Homo sapiens: one gene and its partners. The protein of the gene in region 3 purifies or fractionates together with the protein of the main gene of each other region. This does not show direct contact. Each region holds a gene or a part of one and is shown on either strand. Other genes may lie near its edges.

Region 1 (4,959 bases), on a different chromosome or scaffold from region 3:
TAATCTCATCTTATAGTAATATTATAAACAATTTTTCAAATCAGAAAAACAGTATTAGCTGTTATAGTTTTATTTAAATATGAATAAAATATATCTTTTTCTCTTGAATTCATCCAAGTATTAAGCAAAACATTTGGTAGATAAATCTGTCTCAGAACACTTTTATTTTATTTTATTTTTATAGGGACAGGCTGGTATGTAGTGGCACAATCATGGCTCACTGTAACCTCGAACTTGTGGGCTCCAGGAATCGTCCCGCCTCAGCCTCCTGAATAGCAAGGACTACAGGTGCGTGCCACTACACCCGGTTAATTTTTTAAATTTTTTGCAGAGATGAGGTCTTGCTATGTTGCCCAGGCTGGTCTCAAATTCCTGGCTGCTTTTTTTTTTTTTTCCTTGAGATGGAATTTCACTCTTGTTGCCCAGGCTGGAGTGCAATGGCGCAATCTTAGCTCACTGCAATCTCTGCCTCCTGGGTTCAAGCGATTCTCCTGCCTCAGCCTCCCAAGTAGCTGGGATTACAGGCATGCACCACCATGCCCGGCTAATTCTGTATTTTTAGTAGAGATGGGGTTTCTCCATGTTGGTCAGGCTGGTCTTGAACTCCCAACCTCAGGTGATCTGCCTGCCTCGGCCACCCAAAGTGCTGGGATTACAGGTGTGAGCCACCACGCCCGGCCAACTCTTGGCTTTAAGCAATCCTTCTGCATCGGCCTCCCAGAGCAAAACAGTTTTAAGACATTTCAATGGACAAAAACAGTATTGCACATTCAATGGTTGTAATGATTTGTTCTTCCCATATTCGTGTGGTTTAAATTTTATTTTATACTCACTAAAACTTATTTCTTTTCTGGTTGAAGAGGTTTAGAAATTTAACAAAATTTTACTGAACTGTAACAGTATTATCATTTAAAAAAAAGTATTTATTGAGCAAATATATGTGGTAGACCTAAGCGTAAGTTATTATTATTGGCAAATATGCTCCAAAATAATTACGTACCTGTTTTGATATTGAGAGGAATTGGTTCAACAATACCACCCCCTTAAAGAGAATGAATACAAACTATTTTAGAAAATTTTCCTCAAACTACAGAACAGTATAAGTATGCAACTTTACAATGCTCTATGCATATGCCCTCCTGTTTCAATGATATTCAAAATTGAAATCTGAACATCTATATATATTCTATATATAATCAATTATCTACCTTGTCTTCAAATACCTACTCATCAAAAAGGCTGATTCACAGCCTCCTATGCCACCTGAAGGTGGAGTTTTAAGAAGGAACAACACTGATATTATTGGTGCAAGACGGTGACAGCCTTAAGTGAAAGCAAAGCAATTACGATAAAGGAAAGAAAAACGGTTTACAGAGGTTACTATAAATATATAGCCTCTCTAGCTTAATAAGCAGTTTCACTTCCTAAAAAGAGAGGTGAGAATTGAGCCTCTCCAACTGGACGGTCATTCAGATGGCTGCCACAGGTACAGAGCAAGCAGGGCAAAGTCTTGCCATCATCCTCAGTGTTGTTTCAATGTATTTAGCCATTGCACTTCTCAACCCATCACTTATCACCATTCTTTGCTTCTTCTGTTGTAAGCCACATCCATCTAGGTTGTTAGTGCCTTCAGCTAAGCTGGGCTGATAAGCAGCTCTTGATGGCACATGTGGTATCTAAAATGGATGTGGGATGATGAAAAGCTCTCCATAAGGCTTGTTAATACATAATAGACTAAAAAGCCTAAGTTGTTATAATTTCTGTGTAGATAAAGATTAAAGCATCAGCTTTGGTCCTTATCCATAAGTCACAATTAGGTGGTAAGGAATACCTGTTTATTTCCACATGTGACTTACCACTCTTGCCAAGTGCCTGACCACTTTTATAGCCCATCTTTTGGAGCAAGGCAAACCCTTTGTTTTCACAGCCTAGTGCATTCTTCAACCCAATGTCACGTCTTTCTTGTTCTTCTTCTTTTAAACTCTTCTGCCTGTTTTTCAAATTGGCTTCCTGTTGCTTTTCTTCTTTTCGACGGGCTTCTCGGATTTGCCTTAGCATTGGCAATCCTGGTCTGATATCTTCTCTGAATAAGGGAAAAGTTTATTTTAGATGAGTCCATAAAGTTTTCTTTTCTTTTTTTTTTTTTTTATTTTTTGAGACGGAGTTTCGCTCTTGTTGCCCGGGCTGTAATGCAATGGCATAATCTTGGCTCACTGCAACCTCCGCCTCCTGGGTTCAACCGATTCTCTTGCCTCAGCCTCCTGAGTAACTGAGATTACAGGCGCCCACGACCATGCCCGGCTATTTTTTGTATTTTTAGTAGAGACGGGGTTTTGCCATGTTGGCCAGGCTGGTCTTGAACTCCTGACTCCAGGTGATCTGCCCGCCTCAGCCTCTCAAAGTGCTGGGATTACAGGCGTGAGCTTCCACGCCTGGCCAAGTTTTCTCATAACTCTGTCACTTACTCACCTGACAACAGTTAATATTTCGGCACTACCTCTATGATCATCTTTGTTATTATGATATTAGAACATAATCAGTGACCTCTAAGAATGGCTGTTTTAGTAGAAATGATGAAGGCTGGTGCCAGATCATAGGAAAATAAGGAAAGCACGAAGTTGAAGAAATCAGATATAGTAAGTTTAGACTTACTATGTTTCTAGGATGTTGGCAATAATAAAGAACAAAGTTGTATAGCAGCTAGAAGAGACAATATGATGTAATAAAGGAAAAGGAGTAAATTTCCTTGGAAGAAGGCAATAAAAAGGATCAAGGGCAAAAGTAAAATGGTTAGCATTAAAAGGAGGAAGTAGATTCTAGTATCTTTCTATGGTGACATAGGAGGTATTTCCATAAAGCAAGAAGACTGACTTTCCCACTGCACATTTAAAATCACTGTCAGGCTGGGCACGGTGGTTCATGCCTGTAATCCTAGCACTTTGGGAGGCCAAAGCCGGAGGATCGCCTGAGCCCAGGAGTTGGAGACCAGCCTTGGCAACACAGTGAGACCTTGTCTCTCCAAATAATAAAAAAGAAGAGTTAGCCGGGCATGATGGTGCAGGCCTGCAGTCCCAACTACTCGGGAGGCCAAGATGGGAGGATCTCCTGAGCCTGGAGAGTTTGAGGCTGCAGTGAGCTAAGATTGTGCCACTGCACTCCAGCCTTGCTAACAGAATGAGACCCTGTCTCAAAAAAATAAAATAAAATAAAATAAAATCAATGTCATTTCTTAATCTACACATCTTATACATATCATTGCACTGGGTGTGCACATTTACTTACTGGACATTAATGAAGGAATCAGACATATAGTCCTCTTCTTCTGCCATGTTCAACTTCATATGGCTATAGTATCTACAAATAAAGTAATAATTACTTTTTTTTTTAGTTTATCAGAATGGAAATAAACCTTTCTGTATCTGCAGCCATGAGCTGTCTCTAGAGCTCTACTATATATTCAAGTGCCCTTTGGACATCTTTATCTGTGGACATTTCAAACTCAACAATCTAAACAACTCATTTCTTTCCCCTTTCCCCAGCCTTCTACATCCCCTGTGTTTCCATGTTGATGTCATCATTATCTCCTTCTTCCTGACCTCTTATGAAGCTGTCAAGTCTTCCTCCATAAAACTCCTCACAGACGTTTTCTCTACAGTTGTGACCACTGCTTTAGTTCAGGCACTTTTTTTTTCTCACCTGAACTATTACAACAGCTTCTTAATCAGCTTCTTAGTTGGTCTCCTCTTCCAGTCCATTCTCTGCACCCCATCCAGAGGTTTTTTGTTTATTTGCTTGTTTGTTTTTAAATACAAGTCAGGTCACGTTACTAGCCTGTTTCAAATCCTTCATTAAACCTGACCCTGTAGGCAGTGGGGGACCAGTCACTTTTGCAAAGCATGAGATGTTGTCCTTCATAATCTGACACAACTGTCCCTAAGGATTCATTATTCAAGCCCCATGGCTCCTCACTGCCCTCTGAACAGAGTACAAACATTTCTTCCCTGTAGGCCAAGGCTACCCTCCCTTCAGAAACCTCTCCTGACCACTCCAGGCCTTTCTCTACAGCACTTTATGTCCAAGCTGCTCATTTGGAAGTTGATATAGTTAACAACTCACTTATGTGGAAATATTTTGAGGGACAGTTTCTATCCAAAATAGTTAAAATCATGTAATTATTGGCCCTTAAAGGGTTAAAGTAATTTTCTACAAAAGTACTTCTCAAACTTTATTGTGTATACAAATTGCACTGAGATCTTCTTAAAATGCAGAATCTGATTCTGGGGCTGGAACCTGAGGTTCTGCATTTCTAGCAGGTTCACAGGCAATGTCAATGTTGCTAGTTCAGTTGCTTAAGACAAAAGTGTATTCACTTGTTGTGGTGCATATGTACTGTTTTTTCCTGCCTACCATCTTTTCCTTTGGGAATCCAACCCTCTGCCCTTCATGTGGTTTTAGTGGAGGGTGGCAATGTCAGTATCCCATATTTCCTTGGGCACAAAGATGGTCAATTATAGTACTCTATGTCCAGCACCAGGGGACGAGATGACCCAGCCAGAGAAATAACCATCTTTTTCCTTACATTATATGAATATATGGGTTGTGGGGGAAAGAAGGTCTTTTATGGGTGTTTCTGAACTGGGAGAATGTGAAGCTGGGCTGTGGATGGCCATCTTCTTGGCCCCATGAAGGGATCTTGTCTGAAGAATGAAGCCAGATAGAGAAAATGAGCCTAGTTTCCAAGGCTGCGGATTCTTTGAAGCTGCGACTTAGCATTCTACCCCATTACATAGACTAATACATTTCTGCATTACTTAAGCTTGCTGAAGTAGGGTTTCTGTCAACTGCAACCAAGTGTCTAGACAATTACACTGGATGAAAAAAGGATTACTATACTAATTTTTAATGGTTTTCTTTTTTGTTTTTTGAGACAGAATCTCGTTCTATCACCCAGGCTGGAGT
Region 2 (4,959 bases), on a different chromosome or scaffold from region 3:
ATCACCTGAGGCCAGGAGTTTGAGACCAGCCTGACCAACATGGAGAAACCCCGTCTCTACTGAAAATACAAAAATTAGCTGGTCGTGGTGGCACATGCTTGTAATCCCAAGCTACTCGGGAGGCTGAGGCAGGAGAATCGCTTGAACCCAAGAGGTGGAGGTTGCAGTGAGCCAAGATCGCACCACTGCACTCCAGCCTGGGCAATAAGAGTGAAACTCTGTCTCAAAAATAAAATAAAATAAAATAAAATAAAATAAAATAAAATAAAATAAAATAGATAAAATAAAGTTGAGCAATACTGTAGATTAGTAAGAGATCACCTCACACTCATTAGGATGGTTACTATTTAAAAACCCAGAAAATAATCAGTGTTAGCAAGGATGTAGAGTTTGGGCTGGGCATAGTGGCTCATGCCTGTAATCCCAGCACTTTGGGAGGCCAAGGAAAGTGGATCACTTGAGGTCAGGAGTTGGAGACCAGCCTGGCAAACATAGTGAAACCCTGTTTCTACTAAAAATACAAAAATTAGCCGGGAATGGTGGCGCACACCTGTAATCCCAGCTACTGGGGAGGCTGAGGCAGAAGAATTGCTTGAACTTGGGAGTTGGAGGTTGCAGTGAGCCGAGACAGTGCCACTGCACTCCAGCCTGGGTGACAGAGCAAGACTCCGTCTCAAGAAAAGAAAAAAGCATGTGGAGATTGGAACCCTTGTGCACTCTTGGTGGGACTATAAAATGGTGCAGCTGCTATGAAAAACAGTACGGTGGTTCCTCAAAAAATTAAAAATAAAACTACCACATGATCCAGCAATCCCACTTCTGGATATTTATCCAAAAGAATAGAAAGCAAGGTCTTGAAGATATATTAATATGCCCATGTTCATAGTAGCACTATATGTAATAACCAAGAGGTGGAAGCAACCCAAATGTCCATCAAGGAATGAATGGATAAACAAAATATGCAAAGTGTGGTACATATATACCATGGAATATTTCTCAGCCTTAAAAAGGAAGGAAATCCTGTCATATGCCACAACATGGATGAACCTTGAGGACATTACTCTAGTCATAAAAAACACTGTATGATAAAACACTCAGATAAAAAACACTTATCTGAGGTATCCAAAGTAGTCAAATTCTTTTTTTTTTTTTTTTTTTTCTTGAGACACGGTCTCACTCTGTGGCCCAGGCTGGAGTGCAGTGGTGCAATCATGGCTTCGGGCTCCAGCCATCCTCCCATCTCAGTCTCTCGGGTAGTTGGGACTAGAGGCATGCACCACCACACCTGGCTAATTTTTGTATTTTTTGTAGAGACAGGGGTTTCACTATATTGCCCAGGCTGGTCTCGAACTCCTGGGCTCAAAGGATCCTCTCGCCTCGACCTCCCAAAGTGTGGGGACTACAGGTATGAGGCACCGAGCCCAGCCTAAGTAGTCAAATTCATAGAGGCGGAAAGAAGAATGGTGGAAGCAAGGCGCTGGGGGAGCAGGGAAAAGAGTGAGTGTTTAATAGGTACAGAGCTTCAGCTGGGGAAGATGAGGAGTTCTGGAGATCTGTTGTACAATGAGGTGAATATACGTAGTACTATTGAACAGCACACTTAAAAAAGGGTTAAGATGGTAAATTTTATGTTACACATTTTTTACCACAATAACCAAAAAGATAAGCAAGGCTATCAGAGGGGGTGGGGCTAGGGCTTGAGACCAGGAGAGGCTGGGCGCTGGGTGGCCCTATAAGGCAAGAACCTCTCTTTTCCTGTCGGAGCTCTCCCTGTGTGAATGGGGTGGGAGGCCTCACAGGATCCTGGGGAAGGACTCATTTCACTGGGGCTGGAGCATACGCTTGCCTGAGCTTCTGGTCTGGCCAAGACCTGGGACTCTCCTTAGGGAAGCCCCACCGTAGGGACTAACAATGGGGAAGAGACTGCCCCCCATCTCAACAACAGTTACTGGGCTTCCAGGCAGCCAAAGGATGAGCCAGCCCTCTCCAAACACTGAAGGGAAGTGAATCCCTTCCCACCCTAAGACCCCCCAGAGAGAAGGCAGCCCCAGTGAGCCCCATCTGCCCTGGAGCAACTTGGGGACTGTTACTCTTGGACACGGCTGGTACATACCACTGAGGCTCCAGCTCCCTGCAGTCTGGCCTTGCTCTGCTTCGCCTCCTGCTTCCTCCCAAACCAGCTCCAGAGAGGGGAAAAATCCCCCTCTTCTCCCCTCCCTTGCGGGCTTTCAAAGCTCCTCTCAGAGCACAGCCTCAGAGCTCATCTTCACCCCAAAACACCAGCTCCACCCTGCTTCCAAGCTGCCAGCTCCATGAAAATCTGACTTCTACAGGTAGGTGTATGTAATGTACATGTACTCATAGAAAGAAAAAGCCCACAAGAAGACTCCACATGTATGCAAGCAATGTTTTCTGAGCTGTTTGTAATGAATATTGCTTGCTTTTATTATTATTTAAGAAAAATGTATAAAGCTCAGCTAAGTTCCTCTGGTTGCTACCATAAGCACCCCAAATCTCTCTACCTCCCAGCACAATGCACCCTCTCCTTATAGCTACAGGAGGATCTACAAAGTACGGAGTGTTAGGAGCAGTGGGATAAGAGACAGACAGGCAAGGAGAGGGAGCAGTCACAGTAACAGCCCCTATGCAAAAGTCTTCCCGACTCTTACAGAATATAGCCTGGAACCTCAAACGACCTGACCCCAGGCCAGCAAAGCCCCGAGTTGGCACTTGGGTCAGAGAAGCCAATTCCTACACACATACTTTCTTCACCCACAAACCCTCTCAAAGCTGCAGCTCAGGCAGAAAGCCTCTGACACATGGGCATGCATAGGACTCTGGAAAGAGATGCTGGAGGCTGGAGATGTGGAGCCAGCCCAGGAATCAAGGTGGCCTTAAGGTTAGGAGTAGACAGGATGGGCAGGGGCAGACAGTGAGTAGCTCTTCTTCCTCCTTTGGCCAAATTCAGCCCCATCCTGTTCATCCAGGCTAGGAGTATCTGCCCCTGAAGTCACACCCGTCTGCCAAGCAGCCACCCACGCCTTCCTGCTCTGATGGGGATGAAAAAGGGCATGTTCCAGGAAGTGCTGCCCTGCTTGGAGGTGAGGGGAGCATCTAGATTTTAACTACTTCTCAGAAATGCAGCTCCTCATCTCTTTCCTTCTCTAACCTTGGTGTGAGGGGCTCATGGATCCCTGGTATTCTGCAGGTGAGGGAATAGACTGCCTCCCCCATAGCCAAAATGAATCCTGAGGCACAGCAATCACCTTAAGTCTCGATCCTCAGTGGTCCTGCCAGTACCTCTTCCTTGCCCTTCCAATGCGCCTCTTCCATCCTTCACCTACTCCAATCCAAGCTCATACACTGACCCTGACCTGCCTTCAAGGGTTCTGGCCTGAGCCACCTCAGGAGGGTAGCAGCAGGGAAGAAAGTCAGAGCCAGGAATCAAGACATTAAGAAGACTTAAATTCCCAGATACAAGCTTTAGGCTCCAGGCTGGGGAGAATCTGGGCTCCTGTGGGAGAAGCTGGGCTGGAGCTGATCTTTTAGGGTAAGGACTGGGTCAGATGAGATTACAGTAACCCCAGGCTTCACCTGTCTGAGGCTTTTCCAAAAGGCATCCTCTAGGTGTCCAGGAAAGGGCTTTAGGGCAACACCTGGATATACGGTGCAGGACAAAGCAGGAGCAAAGCAAATGGGTCCCTGACAGCAGGCAGGGGACAGAGATGGGAAAAGCAGAAGGGGTGGTCAAGTGAAGCAGATAAGAGTGTCCCGCCCAGGGATGCTGCGGCCACAGGAGCAGGCCAGGCACAGGAGGAATACTTCCTTCCCACTCTACTTCCCCAAGGCCACGCTTGCCATGCACTTTCATCGTTGTAGACTTCTGTATACACAGCAGGATCTACTTTGTTCAAGATCCTTAGCAGGTGAGTAGTGAGTTAAAATAAGGACCTGTCTTAACCTAGCTGGGAATTAAAGTGCAGATGGGCACACTACTTCCTGTCACCCCATCCCTCACAAAGGCTGACAGATAAAGGGAGTGAGACATCCGGAGCAGCCTAGGACCAAACTGGGCAGATGGGCACAAGGCTCCTGCAGTGAGGAGGCTCCCATATCCCAACCCCCTTCAGAAGCCAACACCAGGCCCCAGCCTGCTTCCCTTCCAGATGCTGCAGGAACTTTCAGCCATGGTTGGGAAGTTAGAGCAGATGGAGGTCCATTTATCCTTTTCCTACTTTGGGCCAGCACCAGCCCCTTATTTCACTGCAGATGCTGCTGTGCACATTTACGGGAGGGCAGATAAGAGGAGGCAGAAATGACCCTTCTAGGAAGAGAGTGGGTTTTCTTTTTCTTTTAAATTAAAATTAAAATTCAACTTTTTATTTTTATTTTTTTTGCATCTCGTTGGTGAAAAAGAAACCAAGTTTTCTACAGCAGCAAGGAAAGATGGGGGCCCTGGACCAAGGAGACATCTGAACCAGGCCCAATATGGACTCCTGCTCAGTTGCTCCAAGATGCTGGGGACACTCCATAGCCAGCTTCTCCAGATGGCCCCATGGTCTTGGGGCACTTTCAGATTCTCTTACTGAAGTCCATCTTAGCTTATGAAGGGGTAATATAGGTGTGAATCCTTAGAAACCATCCCGCTCTTCCTGAATCTGAGATTGTCAGTCCCCCTTTTACTCCCATGGATGTGGAATAACAATCTCCCTGTGGTCCCATGTCTCGGTCCCTCTGCACTCACCCCCTCCTGCCATCTCACTGTTGCCATCTGCAGGGCCTGCTCCAGCCCAGCTGTAGCAGGAAGGCTGGGGGAGGAGGACATGGACAAACCTGTCATTGTCATCCACACCAAGTGGACCCTAGCTCTGAGGTGAGCTGAGGTGCCACACTGAGAGCAGCTCCAAAGGTTCCCTACCCAGGCCTCTCAATGTCTCCAGCTCATGGGCCTGGAGTGGG
Region 3 (5,385 bases):
GAGGCTGCATGGTCCAGCGGTGGGTGCAGGTGGCAACAGGTCGGCGGGCTGTGCAGGTTCCAAAAGGAGCTCTCGGGTTGGCACTGGGTGAGACCAGCCCCGGGGCCAGCAGGGGAATGAGCGGTGGAGCAGGGGGTTGCTGGGCACTGGGGTGGGCCCCATCTCCTGTCCTTCCCTCATGGCTGCTGGAAGGGCCGCCTCCCTGGCTCAGCATCTGAAAGCAGGGGGTCAAGGGTGAGAGGGAAGGAGTGAAGGGCCCGCCCTGCCGGGCAGAGGCTCACCCAGGTCAGGCAGGGGCAGGCAGCCTGTCCAGGCCCCTCGGTCTACCAGGGCCCAGCCTCCCCCCACTGGCCTCCCTCCCCGGCCTCCTGGGCCCTGTGCAACTGCCCACTCCGGGGGAAGGGGCCCCCAGCCAGGAGGTAGAAGAAACCTGGGAGGGGTTCCCAGAATGGAGTCAGAGCATGCGGAGGGATCCCAGTGCCTCCCTCCCTGGGGGCTCAAAAAGTCAGAGCTGTCCCCAGAGGCCGCCCAGTCTCCTGGTCTCCCAGCCTCCATGCCTGCCACCCCCCAACAGGCCAAGGTCCCCCCAGCAGCCACACTGCAGCGCAACATACCCATCATTCCCTGCCCAGAACCCTGCTAACCCCTGACAGCTGCCTCGATGCCCAGGCCTACCCCAGTCCCGCCCGGCATCTGCGCAGCCCGGCCGCTCCCTGCTGTTCCCTCGGCCTGAGACACTCTTCCAGAAGCCAGCCCCATTACACCAGGGAGAGGCCCTCCCTGACCCCGCCCGCTCAGAAGCATCCTGCAGTCAGTTCTCCACCTGACTTAGACCTCATCCCTCAGGGAGGGGCCCAGATGGAGCAACCACTACCCTAAGCCCTGCAGCCGCTTTCCTGCCTTAAAAAAGCAAGAAGGCTGACCACGGTGGCTCACACCTGTAATCCCAGCACTTTGGGAGGCCGAAGCGGGCAGATCACCTGAGGTCAGGAGTTCGAGGCCAGCCTGGCCAACATGGTGAAACCCTGTCTCTACTAAAACTACAAAAATTAGCCGGGTGTAGTGGTGAGCACCTTTAATCCCAGCTACTCAGGAGGCTGCGATGGGAGAAATGCTTGAACCTGGGAGGTGGAGGTTGCAGTGAGCAGAGATCGTGCCATTGCACTCCAGCCTGGGCAACAAGAGCGAAACTCCATCTCAAAACAAAACAAAACTTAGGTCAGGTGCGGTGGCTCACACCTGTAATCCCAGCTCTTTGGGAAGCCCAGGCAGATGGATCACCTGAGGTAAGGAGCTGGAACCCAGCCTGGCCAACATGGTGAAACCCCATCTCTATCTACTAAATACAAAAAATTAGCGAGGCGTGGTGGCGGGTGCCTGTAATCCCAGCTACTCGGGAGGCTGTGGCAGGAAAATCGCCTCAATCCCGGAGGCGGAGGTTGCAGTGAGTTGGGATCGCGCCACTCCACCTCAAAAATAAATAAATGACAAACATTTAAGTTTAAAAAAAAAAAGTTGTAAATGGAGGCTGGGAGAAGGGATGAGCCCTGCCCAGTGGGGCCATGGCCTGACTACCGCTGTCAGCTGTGATTGCAGGGACCACTCCATGGCTTGGCCAAGTCCCCAGGGTCCTGCTGAGTCTCCAGCCCAGCCTGCCCACCGAGGCCCCAGAGCTGGGGAAGGGTGCACACCATCTCAGATTCCGGGACTCAAACACCGTCTCCTCGTCGCTGTCCAGCGAGGCCATCTCCGTGGGGTCCTCAGTGTTGGCGAGGAGGCCGTATCGCCTCCGCTGAGGCTTCTTCAACCTGGAAGTAGGTCCAGGCATAGTCAGTGGCCCCTCCCCGCCAACCCTGCCTCCTCCTTCCCTCAGGACTCTCATTGCCGTCCTCTACTGGAGCCCCGAGCCCTGCTGCAGACCTCCCTGGTTTTGCTGTGCCTGCTTCTTTCATGTCCTAATCGCCAAGTGATTACCATTCACTCCCATGGCGATGACAGTAAGAAGACATGTGCCCTACCAGGCCCTCCCATCTCCCCTGCGCCAGGACCCCAGGAGAGGCACGCTGATGTCACTCCCATTGCACTGATGAAAAGACTGAGGCTCACACAGGGGTGAGACTTTGCCAAAGACAACAGAATGGAAGCCTGTCTCAGGGCCAAGCCCCTGGTGGCCCCAGCAGCCCGGGAGGCAGGGAGGGCGCGGCATACAGGCAGGGGAGAGCGCGCAGCAGGTGCTTCCACAGGAAGAGGTGTGGAGCACAGGGGAGGCTCTGCACAGGGCCCATAAAAAGCAGCATGGCGGAGTGCAGGTGCTCACATCTATAATGCCAGCACTTTGGGAGGCCAACGAAAAAGGATCACTTGAGCCCAGGAGTTCAGACCAGCGCGGGTAACATGGCGAGACCCCATCGCTACAATAAAAACTTATAAAAAATAAAAAGCGGCTTGACTTTGCCAGGGTGGTGATGGGGAGGGATAAGGTCCTCGCTGTGTCTCTCCCACCCGGGAGAAGCAGCCACACTGGGTAGTCAGGAGCCCAGAGGAGACTGGAGCCACAGGCCAGGGAAGCCGGGGTGGCCTGAACACGCAGAAGCCCCTCCTGCCCAGGGGCTGCCTACAGCTGGAGACCCCCGCGAGGGTCTGGGGACGCAGCTGCACCTCCCGGGCTGTGGGAGCACCCAAGGCGGGCACGTGGCCGACCCTGGCGACGAACCAGCTTCAGTGGGTAGAAGCAGAAAGGAAAATATCGGGACCCCACGGAAAGGCCTGGCGGCAGGCGGGAAGATGAGAACGAGGACGGGCATCCGGCGACAAGGAGCCAAGGAGGCCCCCTCGCCCCGCCAGGGCCTGACCCCTGCCCGGCATGCTCCGGCTTCAGTGGCCCCACCTGGGAAACGGGCAGCGTCACCCCCGAGTTAAGAGGCGGCGCGCTGGGCACCTCCAACCCCAGGCGCAGGCTGGAGAGCGGGTGAGTCCCGTGGCCCCTGCACCGCCCACACCACGTGACGACCCCGCACAGCACCGCCCACGCCCACTCCAACAGGGAGAGAGGGAGGGAGGGAGGGAGGGAGGGGAGGACCCCGCGGCCCGGCACGTGACGCACTAGGCGCGCGCTAATTGGCCAAGGCTGAGAGACGGCGCCCACGTGCGCCTGACGCACCTAAACGCCCGGATCAGGAAGTAGAGCGCGGTCAGGCCGCAGAAGCCCAGGATCACGTAGAAGGAGCGCGTCAGCGCCGAGCCCGACGCCCCCGGCGGACGCGTGTGCGTGCTGTTGTGTGGCGCGCCCGGCTGGCTCCCGTTCGTCACGGCCGGCGGCGGCGACAACGTGACCTGCGCGGGGCGCAGCGGCGAGGCCTCTTCGGCACCGCACGGCAGCGCCGCCAGCAGCAGCGCCAGCAGGAGCAGCAGCAGCGGCGGCTGCAGCACGCGCGGCCCCATGGCCCGGCGGAAGCGGTGGCGGCGCCCCGCCCCTATGCGCGCTGTCAGTCAGGCGCGCGGAGGTGATGCCAGCCAATGGGGCGCGGAGGCGGAGCTTGACGCCGGGCCCCGCCTCCGCCTGGTGAGCCCCGGCGCTACCCACAGTGCCCCGCGCGCCCGCCGCGGAACTTGCTTCGTCGAACCGCTCCAAGGGATCAGGACGGAGGCCCGGAGCCCGCCCGTGGGAGTCCCGGCAAGGCGCAGCCGGCAGAGCCCAGAACTGCCAGCCCAGCGTGGGGGGTCGCGGCTTCCGAGGAAATCGGGCTGGCAGCGGGGAGACGGGGCGGACCCCGACTTCAGGACCTCGGGCCGCTCATTCCCACCCACTTCGGGGCGACCCCCGCCACTCCTGCCCCGGCCTCACGGACACTGAGAACGCGTCGGCCACGTCCAGGGCCCAGGAAGGTGGCGCCCCGCTCCCAAGCCTGCTACAGGGAACCCGGGACTCGGCCCAAGACGGGGCCTGACAGCGGCTGCGCGGCCGCCGCTCCCTCGAAGCCGAGTGCGCCTCAGATCCCGCGAGACTGGAGTCTCCGCGCTGCGAACCCCCTCAGTGGCGAGCCCCCCGCGGTCACTGCTCGGACAATGACCCTTGCAGTCTTCCCTGTCGGGTCCTACTCGTGCGCTGAACCGAGGTCCGCAGGCTTTTCTTCCAGTGGCCCCGCTCCGCCGACAGACCCCCCTGAACCACAGACTCGGCTTTCTGGGTGCACACGTGGCCCTTTATTCGAATCCGACTTTCACAGGGCTCCACATCGTTGTGGGCAAGGACTGGCCGCCCCGTAAGCTGCCGGCGCACCGCAGCCCGTGCTCCAGGAGAGACTCGAGGCCCTGAGCCCGCACCTCACTGGCGAAGCGCCTCCTGGAAGGAGGAGGAAGGGAGGGAGAACAGGCGCGGGCTCCAGGCGGGGGACCCGGCGCTCCCGGGAGGCGCTGCCCTGCACCCAACACACACCGAAAGGCGCCCGCCATGGGGCCATAGGTGCGGGAGAGCAGGACTCACTGAAACGCCCAGGTGCCGCCCGGGACAGGGCTCAGCGCCACATGCCACTCTTCCCGAAAGCACTTACAGGGGACAAGCCTCCTGGGCAAGCGGCTGCCTCCAGCTCTTGTTCCAGGTGAAGTCCCTCCTGGGACAGTGACCCCAGAGGTCATCGCTGCTCTCAGGCCACCCTTCCCCGAGTCCTGGCCGGGCCCCTTCAACCTGCCAAAGCAAAGCAGCGTTACTCCCAACGTCCTCCACAGGGCTCACAGCTGCCCCTCCCGGCCTCCCCGGAAACAGCCACAGCCCCTAGGAAGGTCTCAGGCTAGTCAGGGGGCTGTGACCTCAGGCTCCGTCACAGGCCAGCATGCCCAGGGCGGGTCTGCACCTTGGCGCAGCTGGAGCCAGCTACCCGTATGGGATGGAGCTATGTGGGCCAGTGTGGGCTCTAGAAAAAAACTAATGGCGGCAACAGACATCAGAGAAAGCTAAGTTAAGAGTGTGACTTAAAGAGGTCTGGAAAAGACGGTCAATTGAGCAAAAAATCCAAAAGGCGGGGGCGTTCACTGGTCTTCAATCCTGCTTAAGGGATTTCATCTATGAGCCAGGCATGACTGGGCCCAGGCTGCACCTGGCTGCACGTGGGGAGCGTAATGGCTGGGCCTGACTTTAGTTCCAGCTTAATTGAAAAAAACAAAAACAAAGTTAAAAAAAAAAGGAAAAACAAAAAACAGTCACAGGAACATTCCCCGGGCACATGACTTTCAGTGAGCTCTCAACAAGAGGGATGTGGACACGAGCGGAAGGAGTTACCTCGAATTACAGGGCTATTTCCACATATGAGCTAGCCAAGGGAGCAGCTTGCGTCTCAGAGGGTTCTGTTGGGCGCACAACACTTCTGTCCTCCGAGGGCTGCAGCTTCC
Region 4 (3,722 bases), on a different chromosome or scaffold from region 3:
TTGAATCAGAGAATACTTGGCCAAGCTCGTATTTGTAAACTAAAACCCCTTGTTATTTGTATCTTCTGCATTTCAGTTTTACTGTAAGAACATACATTTTGAAATTATGAACATTTTTTTCATAAAAATTAAATGCTTTAAGAAATGGAGAAGGAAAAATAGCTTTTATCAATTTTTTTCTCCTCAAGATTCTGTAATAAACCTCAAAGTCTGGTGTAGAATGGTATTTTCCCGTTTGAGGTCTTGGTAGTTTTTTTTTTTTTTTTAAACATGGTGCCACTTTTAATTAACTAAATGTTACAAAATTCTCAGCATTTGTTTTTGTCTGGTAGTATTATTGAGTCTTTTCATACACTTCTTAAAATGTGAAAATCTATGTTTTCAGTATTATGACAGTATCTGCAGATACTATAATAATATGCTTTGGCCAAATTTGCTGTTTATAGAGTGAACCAAGATGTCAGTTTTGTATTGGGGATATGTTTTACATAAATAGAACTCATTTAAAAGTATGGTTCAAGTACTGCTCTTCTTTTTATGGGGAAATTGATTTTTAAGGAGCGATTCTTTTCCTATATAAAAGCTATTGAGGCTTAGCTTTATTCATACATGAGTGATTTGGTTATAACTCAATCAAAATTTTTATCTTTAAATCTGAGACAAGTATTATATTTAAAACTAGATCTATTAATACATTCATCACTGCCTGAAAATTTGCTGTTCTAATGTTTGTGAATTTTCACTCATTACCTAGAGTAAACTTATTGCATATTTTCATAATCAGTCAAAATAATAAAACTAAAAACAAAAAGTAAAAATTAGTTCCCAAGTAAATATATCAGTGTTTCCTGTGTTTGGGCAGAAGTGCAAAGTAGTTTTAATTTCTCACGTTGTAGAAAAAGAGGCCAAAAAGGTCACCTTAGTTTATTTTTCCAAAACATAACTTTAGGTATTCTAATGTATTTTGTTAGTTGCTTAGAAATGGAAATAAAATATATGTGCTTATTAAATAATGCACAGTACACTAGATTATAGAGTTTATTTTTGCTTTTATGCTTTAAAGAATGCATGCCCAAAACACTACTACCAACAAGAGGATTTTTTAAAATCACAGAATTGATATTTATCTCAAGACTATCTTAAGCTAATGTACTTCTGTTACATAATTAAACTATTTCTGCTATTATTTTTAAAGCAGTATTATTTTATAACCAATTCTAAAATTCAGCTTTAAAAATATTGAACATACCTTCCTACCACTTACGCTTCAAGTTTCATTTATTGAATACCAGGGTCATATCTTAGAATTGTATATAAAACAACATGTAACCCATTCATGAAAAACGTTTTTAAGTATTGCTTTTTGCTGCTATGTTCTGCATTGAGCCTAGTTTTGCCATTGTCCCCTGAATGTAGTATTATCTATAGATTATACATAACTACATCTATTGCTTTTGGTGGTAAATCAAGATTTAGTTGTAATTTTCCAGCTGTGAAAATGTTGCCTTGTATTTAAAAGGGTTTCATGAATGGAAACCTAAGTAAAACTAAGCTCATTAGTGACAGACTTGTTTTCTTCTTGTTATTCCTCCAGCAACTCCCTCACCACCACGCCTCCCTGCCTACCATCCCCGGAAGGGTGCTTATTCTTTAACAAAGAGAATCTAAAAAAAAAAACAAAAAACTGTTGTCTAATATATCTACAGTAAATGTTACACTAGAGCTTTTATTTTCCTCTGTAGCTTTTCAGAAGAAGCAATTTACCTTGGATTTGTAAATCAAGCTGAAACTTTTTTGATGTTCATGTACTCATATGTCTTGTAGGTGGTAGGTGTCACTTGTGTGTATGTGTAAGTGAAGTATGATGCATGCTCATTCACTTGGTCCCTTTGAAATAAGGGAAAGGATCACAGTGCTGCTGGGCCATGATGGTATGTAGAAGGGTCTGTCAGCACACATGGAAAGCCCCCATTTGCACAGATGTAGAACTTTAATAATCCAGATGCAATCATTGGAAGTATTTAATATGCAATTGGTAGCACCTTAGCTAATTAATCTGCATATGAAGCATTTTCTGATATATTTAATAAGAGGTATAGAAGCTCTTCAAGCATTAAAATAGAGTTGATGTTTCATTCCATTTGTTTTATCCATCAAAAAATGCACTCTCACAGTGGAGTTGAAGTCTAATACATGATACATGTGGGCCTGTTAGTCTTCGAAGCTTCCAGATGGTTTGTGTTTTGAGGTACAAAAAAATGCTGCAGATCTAGAAATGCATATATTTAGCGGGTATTTGAAAGATAGAAGCATTATTTATAACTGAAGAGTATAACACTTATCTTCTTAAGTAAATGCTCTCATAACTTGTATACATTTTTGCAGGTACAAATTCAAAAGTATGTAAGCATTGTATAATGTGACAATTGTATAATTTATGTAATCTGATGCATGAATCAGAATTTTTATATAATATATGATTATTGACTTATAGTTGATTAAAGTGTTTAAACTTAATTCAGTTGTCAACATTTATTACAGATACAGCGGTGTTACCATAATGGATTTATATATGAGTCCTCCTTGTTTTTTAATAAATACCTAGGATGCCTCTTATTTGGTGTATTGTAGCACATATTCTGTAAGACCTACAAACTTATTTTACTATGAAGATAGTTCTGAAAAGTCATTCAAAAGAGTAGTTTTTAAGTACAAGTGAACATTCTTCAACAAATGTGTGGATGCCCTCTACATATAAGACATCCCCTCATAGGGATGGAGCTTACGATTTAGTAGAAATGATATTTGAGTATTTATATATAGGCTAAGGTCTCTGCTGAGTACTTCCTATTTATGCTTTATTTTATTTCTCACAACAACCCTGTAAGGTAGGGAATGCACAAGCTTTCAGAGGAAATGTAAGAAAACCTTTTGTGGTACTGAAGAAAGTAGAATAGGGTTGGTACAGCCGGTAGCATTTTTCACCACTTCTTATCCTCCAGCATCTACCAGAAGTCATTAATCAGTCACCACTTCCAGTCCCCTCAACACAACAGTCTAAGTGCATGCCCCTCCATCCGAGGTATGGGTACATTTTTATGGCAGTGTATTAGGCAGTTGTATTCTAGATTATGGGACATGAACCATATGTAGTCTTAGACATAAATCATACATATTTGGCACAAGGGATTTCTCAGCAGACCAGAACGCCTTTCTGTTCTGGAATTGTAGTCCCTTCTGGAGGCCCGTTGAACCTGTCCCTCTACTTCTCCCAGCACATCTCCTTTAGATTCTTCTTTCCACCTGCCCACAGCATGCACGTTTCTTTTTCCTTACTCTGCTGAGGCAAAAATATTTGGAGTAATTTGGAAGTGGAGAGCTGTTATGAGTCTGTTAAGGTGGCCATTTTTCATGTAGGGCTTGTGACCTAAATGCCCAACATTTGACATTTTTCCTCAGATAATTTTGCATGATACCACAACTTCATACTTTTATATTTTTATGATTATACAGTTAATACTTATAAGCAATATTTAATTTTGTATTTATGTACCTATAATTACATGAACTAAAAGTGCTTAATTTTGATCTTACAGTCCTCACACCCTAAAACTTGATTCTTAAATGTTCAGTGGTTTCATCATTTGGCATACTGAAAAGCGAAATTTATGCTAGGAAGCACAAAATCAAATTTCTCTGTCAGAGGATTTCAATTAATGGTG

What was found.
Region 1: the proteins of FAM174C (region 3) and GPATCH11 purify together in Homo sapiens (co-immunoprecipitation; one large-scale study listed by IntAct). This does not show direct contact.
Region 2: the proteins of FAM174C (region 3) and SLC41A1 purify together in Homo sapiens (affinity purification with mass spectrometry; one large-scale study listed by BioGRID and IntAct). This does not show direct contact.
Region 4: the proteins of FAM174C (region 3) and RAB11FIP2 purify together in Homo sapiens (affinity purification with mass spectrometry; one large-scale study listed by BioGRID and IntAct). This does not show direct contact.

What each region holds. Positions count from the first base shown.
Region 1 is NC_000002.12:37,086,764-37,091,722, reverse strand, and holds part of GPATCH11 (G patch domain-containing protein 11), read right to left. Parts: intron 3,355-4,959; 5' UTR 3,342-3,354; coding exon 3,283-3,341; intron 2,084-3,282; coding exon 1,857-2,083; intron 1,043-1,856; coding exon 1,001-1,042; coding exon of another isoform or gene 997-1,000; intron 1-996.
Region 2 is NC_000001.11:205,802,494-205,807,452, forward strand, and holds part of SLC41A1 (solute carrier family 41 member 1), read right to left. Parts: intron 1-4,959. UniProt on the Homo sapiens protein: Na(+)/Mg(2+) ion exchanger that acts as a predominant Mg(2+) efflux system at the plasma membrane.
Region 3 is NC_000019.10:1,273,606-1,278,990, reverse strand, and holds the start of FAM174C (protein FAM174C precursor), read right to left. Parts: upstream 3,462-5,385; 5' UTR 3,442-3,461; coding exon 3,161-3,441; intron 1,809-3,160; coding exon 1,692-1,808; intron 215-1,691; coding exon 214-214; 3' UTR 1-213.
Region 4 is NC_000010.11:118,003,711-118,007,432, reverse strand, and holds the end of RAB11FIP2 (rab11 family-interacting protein 2), read left to right. Parts: 3' UTR 1-2,517; downstream 2,518-3,722. UniProt on the Homo sapiens protein: A Rab11 effector binding preferentially phosphatidylinositol 3,4,5-trisphosphate (PtdInsP3) and phosphatidic acid (PA) and acting in the regulation of the transport of vesicles from the endosomal recycling compartment (ERC) to the plasma membrane.